Linked DNA regions of Homo sapiens. The protein of the gene in region 2 purifies or fractionates together with the protein of the main gene of each other region. This does not show direct contact. Each region holds a gene or a part of one and is shown on either strand. Other genes may lie near its edges.

Region 1 (3,500 bases), on a different chromosome or scaffold from region 2:
ATTTGTCCTATGGAAACTTTAAATTTAACGTAGTAAAACCTTAAATCCTTTTCTTTACGGCTTTGGGTTTTGCTTGCTGAGGAAAGCCAAAATTATATCAATATTCTCCTCTATTTCTTTATAGCACTTTTTAATCTTTTTTACATTTAGATACTTTATATACCTGGCTTTAAGCTCTGTATATAGTGTGAAATAGGGCTCTAACTCCTACTTCCCAAACAATGCATAGAGACAGGTTTTGAAGCCTCTTCCCCTCCCTCCTTTATCCTATACTAAATTCCATGCAGAACCAATATCTATGTCTGCTTCTGGCCCTAGCAGAGCCCACACATTTGTCTGTCTCTGTCCAGTACTGTGCCACTTTGATTCCTGTGGTTTTTCCACTGTTCTGAGATCTGGGAAGGTGCTCTCCCTACTACTCTTCCCCATCCCCAAACTTGTCTTGGTTATTTTTGAACGTGTTCTAAGTATGCTTTAAGACTAGCTTGCTTAGTTCCACAAAAAAATTCACTGGGACTTTTAACTGTGATAGAAACTGAATTTATAGATTAATTTTAGAAAAAAATGTCTTTTACATCAACTTTTATAAATAAATGCTCTACAGAGATTTGAAAAAGAGTGAGTACACTGTCAGTTACAAAGTTTTGTGCCCCCACATGTATACACACACATACATACTCTAAATTTATTAACTGCACTATTCAATTCTTATCCTTTCTAGTTTTTGTCTATTTGATCTGTGAATTTCTGAGAGGGGTGTTTAAATCGTGCTCTAAAGTGATGGTATTTTTTACTTCTAACGGGTTTTGCTTAAAATATATAAATGTCATGCTGTTTTGTACATAAAGTTTTGGAACTGTTCAGTCGTCTTAGTGGAGAGTATGGAGTTGAACCTCTTATCAATATTAAACATCCTTCTTGCAAACTTTTGCACGTGGAATTCCACACTATTAATATTGTCACTTCTGGTTTTCGTTGCATCTTCTCAAGACAGCTTTGTCCATCTATTTATTTTTCAACCTTTCTGTACCATTTTGTTTTAAGTGTGCAACAGAAAGCACTGTCCCTGGTTTCTATTATCCATTTCTTCCTTTAGTACTAGAATGGCTTTCCCAACCCAGATTTCAGCAGAATCCACTCCCCCTGCTGGAGCCTCATCTCTGCCCTCAAATGTAGCCACGTGATAAAGTTCCTAATGTGCGAAAGAAAAGGGGACTCATTCAACTCCACCCCATTTCCTGAAAAGGGAACTGCTTGCCCTCCACCTTCCCAGGCCTGGGCATGTGCACAGACACACACACACACACTGCACACACACACACACACACACACACACACACACAGCCCACATGGACCAGAACAATGCCCAGGGGACAGCACAGTGACACACACACACACACACACACACACTGCCCACATGGACCAGAACAATGCCCAGGGGACAGCACAGTGACAAGACAAAAGTCATGGCTGGACTATCCTATGAGGCAGTACTGCCCACTACGCCACACGGCCTGCATGCCAGGACTGTTCTCAGAGAGAGAAGGAGGCTTCTCCCTCATCTCAGCCATTGTATTTGCAGGTTTTGTTTTTATTTGGTAGCTTAGCCTATACTCTGACTAATACACAATTTGTTAGCTGACACTGGAGTGTTCTTGTTTTTTTTTTTTGAGACGGTGTCTCGCTCTGTTGCCCAAGCTGGAGTGCACTGGCGTGATCTCGGCTCACTGCAAGCTCCGCCTCCCGGGTTCAGGCGATTCTCCTGTCTTGCCCTCCCAAGTAGCTGGGACTACAGGCACGTGCCACTACACACGCCTGATTTTTTTATTTTTATTTTTAGTAGAGACGGGGTTTCACCATGTTAGCCAGGATGGTCTCGATCTCCTGACCTCGTGATCCACCTGCCTCGGCCTCCCAAAGTGCTGGATTACAGGCATGAGCCACCACGCCCGGCTGGAGTGTTTTATGGTTGCAAAAAAAATCAAAATGAGGGAACAGCCAAACATTTGGGCAGTGGGAAAATGGCGGGCAGTAAGGAAATAGATAAGGATCCCGCAGGCTGGAAAGGTGGCAAACCTTATTGTGCCAGAGCAGAGCATTTGGTAAAAAATAACTACCATTAAATTGAGAGCATGAAAGAAAGCACCAGAAAATCAGCAAAATTCCGAAGATTTTACAAATACAACAGGATGAGACCCTCGACTGGGGTCACTTTCACATGAACTTGATTAGATGCGAACAGCCAGAAGCCTACACATTTCTGAAATCTCACTGCAAACATAGGCAGTGGCAGGAGGCAGGTAAGAAGCCGCCCTCCAAGTTTGCAATTGTTTAGCCCTAAAGCTGCTCACACAAGCAGGAAGTGAGTGGCACAAGCTGTGCAGCCACCAGGGAGGGCGTATTTTCTAATGTCCACTTCAGATATGGCCACAGAGCATTACCACCAAGGCAGAAGCTCCCAGGGGACGAGGCCAGAGCACACAGGAGTCTCTTTCTGAGGGCAGCAACAGGTTCAAACCAAGGAGCTTACTTCATGCCAAGAAGGCGTCTCACCGGTCCCACCCTGCAGGGTTCCACCACTGCTGCAGAGCAGAGCTGCGGGCCCTTCCCCTTCTTCCTTTTCCAAATGGGAGCTCTACTGCTCTCATCATATTCTTCCTCCACTGCTATATGCTGGTTTGGGTAGGAAACTTGGTGGATAGGGAGGAGATAACTTCTCTGTTAGTTTATAGCTTGTGGACTTCAAGAAATTGATGGAGGAGATGAACCAACACTCAGACTTGGGGGCAGTAGCTGCATTCAACTTCATTTCCATAAAAACAACTCTCTCTTTGTGCCCTTATTTCAAGGGTTTTTACACTCTTTAGTCGAATTATGTAACTATTGTAACAAGTGCAACTGGCCTACACAGGTTTGGAAATGACCCTCACTGACTCCTCCTAAGCATACACTTCAACTGGGGGAGGAGAGGAGGGCATCCAGAGAATAGGCACCTAGTGGGACGGAAGCAGCCACGAGTTTTCATTAGCGTGTTTTACAGAGAGATGAAGGGAGCTGGGAATCCAGACAAAGAGCTTCTATTATACATATAACTCCACATTGGAATTGTTTAAAAGTTGCTTTCCTTTTTGTTTTAATTAGCTTCTACTTCCCTATTCTAGAGTCCATTCTATTTGTTCATCTTGGTCCTTTTCTGTCATTGGTTTCATGCAAATGTCTGGTGACCATTAATTCTCCATTCTTATTTATGAATGAAGGATTAGGTTGACTAGTATAGGTCTGGGTTTTGGTTTCTTCCAAAGTAGTAAATTTCTGTTTCTCTAATAGGCCTCTCCCTTGCATGGGAAAGCTAAGTATGCTCTGTGGAAGCACACTGAGTTTTCCAGTGTGTTTTACTCTGGGAAGAGTCCTTTCCTTTAGTTCTCTCTCCTTTTCCATTGTAGAAGTCTGCTCTGTTTCCTATGCCTACACAAAGAATCATCTTCCCTTCGCTTCTGTAG
Region 2 (3,500 bases):
ACAGATAAAGAGGAAGCATACTTGAAGAATTATAGTTAAAGATTGTATGGATACCTAAGGGGCCTCACCCACACCTGGATCAAATTTGGATGGCATCTAGATTTTGAGGTGATGACCGCCTATACAGTAAAAAAAATTATTTTTCATATTTTAATAAAAGTGATGTTTGACATCAATACAATTTAACTTGTTTTATAGCATCCAAACCTCTAAATAAAATATAAAATAATTTAAAACATTTTCTGTCTGTTAAAAGATTGAGCTACTAATGCAGAAGGGCAAGCATCATAGATTTCTAATATTAATATTATTTATTAATAAATCTCACTAATATAAAACTTGATAAACTTCTCTAAACCAAATTAATCAATTATCAACTGCCAAATTTTAATCTGTTTATAATATTTATTTGACAGCATCATAGCTATTATCAAGAGAACACATAAGCAATGTCAAAGCTGTCCTAAATATCTTGATTTGCAGATTATTTTTTCTGTTTGTAACAAAGATTCCAATTAAAGGAGGCATTTTAAATGAGATGTGAACTGGAAAATGAAATGTCTGACTCTCCTAAAATGATTATAATTTTTTTAACTTCATGCACTCCCAAAGAAAAGCAAATAATATCATTTCAATGTTCTATAATGCCTATCCTTCAGAATGACAGCACATCTTAATTTTCTATTCACTATCATATTGTGACATTTTATGTATGAAAAATAGTTAAAGCAGTATTTTTTAAAATGTCATACGGCTATAGAGAGCAATTTATTTCATGCCCATGTCCCTCCGGGCTATGAGCCTATTTAGTAAAGCTTATCAGTGAAGGACAATGACTGACATGTCTTCTGCATATGCACTCATGGGCCAATAAAAACAAAGAACACAAATATACCATTCAGAAATACACAGCACTGTTTAAAAATAGCAATGCCCATTTCTTCTCACAGAGAAGAGGGTCCTAGTCTACAGAGACAGCACAGAGCAGTGAAGGGGTATTATCTTGTACTGAGAGTCAGAGTATGTGGGCTCTCAGCTTAGCTTAAGCTACCTGGTAAGTGACTTATCCACCTTAGAATTCAGTTAACTAACTGTAAAATTCAGTGTCTGTATCCAACTTGATCAGTCAATGCATTCCTAAACTTCAGACATGCAGGCACCCCTCAGGCGAGTTCTTACTACACTCATGCAAAACCTGTACAGTTTTTTTGAATCCACCAAATAATCACTTAAATAAGTTTATTTTTCCTTAAAATAAACTTTAAACAGGAAACTTTTACACCACTACTTTATAAATGAAAAATCTGATTTACATAGCATTAATGATTGGTAATAGATTTAATTTTAAAATTAAATACAATAATACAACAAAACAATTATCAAATTCTAGCTATCAAGTTGTTGGCTGCCTAACGTCTATTCTCTTTGGAAAAACAGAGAAGCAACTCTCTAGGAGAGAGATTCTAGCATCAGACTGAGAATTTCTCCATTACTTGTCAGGAAAGCATTGAAAGGAAATAAGTTTTTCATTATATGATTCACTGTCATTTCAGGCAACATCTACATGCCACATAAAATCAACTCTAGTATCAACCAAAATCATCTTTCATACCAGCAGCAAATTTCTTGTACCCTGGAAATGCTGCATCAAATAGTACACCCGTTATTTCTGATTCTAAATTTTATCATGAATCCCCATATGACCCACCTAACCTACTTTCTTAAAACCATTAATACTGTCATGAGAGACACTAAAATAATTTTGAGGGCAATGATGCACTATGGAAAAAGTTACATTAGGTTTCTAAGCTTAGTTTCATCAGGCTAGATCTTGACACTGGCAAGTTAATTAACCTCTCTAAGCCTCAGATTGCTCATTCAGATTAAAGTGCTAGTGTCACAGTTAAATGACATAATGCATGTAATAAGCTTAGCATTGAACCCGAACATGGTAGGTACTCAATAAATGTTATGGATTAAAAATAATTTAATTTTCTCAAATAAGTTTTCAAAATTCTACTAAAATTCACTCCAAAGAACACTGGCTAAAAAGAAAATATAGTTTATCATTTTTCTTTTATAATAAAGCTATATGATATATAACTTTCACTTCAAAATAAAGCTATAAAACCCATAAACCATCTACTGGCAAAAGTAGCAAAACCACTTTGTCCTTAATGATAAAAGAAGAACCATTGGCTGTCAAAATGAAAAACAACAACTCTTAGTTGCTATCATGTAAAGCATTTTCAGGTTTTTTCCACCCCAAGAACGGCTCAAAAGGGTAGAAAAGACAGAGTGAGAATATCTTAATCAAAAAGTTTCAGCCAAGTAGGGCACATAGTGAAAGGAGCCACTTTTAGGCCAGCACTAATAACACTCTTACCTACTAGATGTAGTAAAGGCTGGGCAAAATAAAAAGAAGCCCAATGTTAATTCAACAACAGTAGTTCTGGTCACCTAATAAATGGTAGTAGTAATATTCTCCAGGACTCATACTCGTCACTTCAGATGCACTATTTCTAATCCATACAAGTTTGCAAGTTAGACATTGCTAACCCAAATTAAAACACGAAGAGGCTGAAGTTCAGAGAGGTTATTTGCCTGCTCAAGGTCACCCTGCTGGTAAATGCCTGAGTTGCACTGAAACCACATCTGATGCCCCAACCAGCTCTCCAGTCACCATTTCCTGCTGCTTTTCTTTTAGGACATAAAGATGTGAACAAAACTCTTCCTCAGTACTTTGAAAAGTCACCAGGTGATATGTGTCCCCTTTTCTTTCCCTGCCCTCTTCTGGTTTCTCTCCAATCCTTTGCTTTTTGATTCACACCATATTTAGTCAGTATTCATTTCCCCAACTCCAATTCACTTATTCCTTCAGCCACAGTAATGTGGTATTGTACCCCAGCCCTTTTGGAAACTGTCCTTCCTAAGAAAAGAAAGAATAAAAAGAAATCAAGGCAAGGCTTCCAATCTACTTGGAACTTAAACTAAAGGCTCCCAGATAACAAGTAATTCTCTTACACAGCAACCAATTATTTACCTGGACACCAGTACTCTCATTAGAGTTGGCATGTTACATATTAGAGGGATGACTAAGGTGGGCACAACGTGTGAAATCGATTATAGATTATGTGCAAATCATACATATTCAAAAGAATGCTTCACTGAATTAGAGCTTCAAAAGGTATTTGGAAGCTTTTATCTTTTATTCAGGGAAGGAATTTACACACAAATAAAAATTACTGAACTTAAGAGTATTTTTGTTCCATATTCTAAATGGTACAGGATCAAGCAAAAATGATAGTCTCTTCATTTAACTCTAAGTTGTACTTCAGTGAAGATGTCCATTTAATAGACAATGTCTAGTTCATGTTTTAAGTTCTAACGCTGCACTTGAAAATTAGTACACCTACCACACATTGCCCACACTTGTGGTCTAAATTGCTGAGGTCTATGAACCACTCTGTTGTATATGTTTCCTCAATCATCCAAAATGC

The links.
Region 1: the proteins of GOLIM4 (region 2) and PACC1 purify together in Homo sapiens (co-immunoprecipitation; one large-scale study listed by IntAct). This does not show direct contact.

Annotation. Positions count from the first base shown.
Region 1 is NC_000001.11:212,380,387-212,383,886, forward strand, and holds part of PACC1 (proton-activated chloride channel), read right to left. Parts: intron 1-3,500. UniProt on the Homo sapiens protein: Chloride channel gated by pH that facilitates the entry of chloride ions into cells upon exposure to extracellular acidic pH. Involved in acidosis-induced cell death by mediating chloride influx and subsequent cell swelling.
Region 2 is NC_000003.12:168,085,925-168,089,424, forward strand, and holds part of GOLIM4 (Golgi integral membrane protein 4), read right to left. Parts: intron 1-3,500. UniProt on the Homo sapiens protein: Plays a role in endosome to Golgi protein trafficking; mediates protein transport along the late endosome-bypass pathway from the early endosome to the Golgi.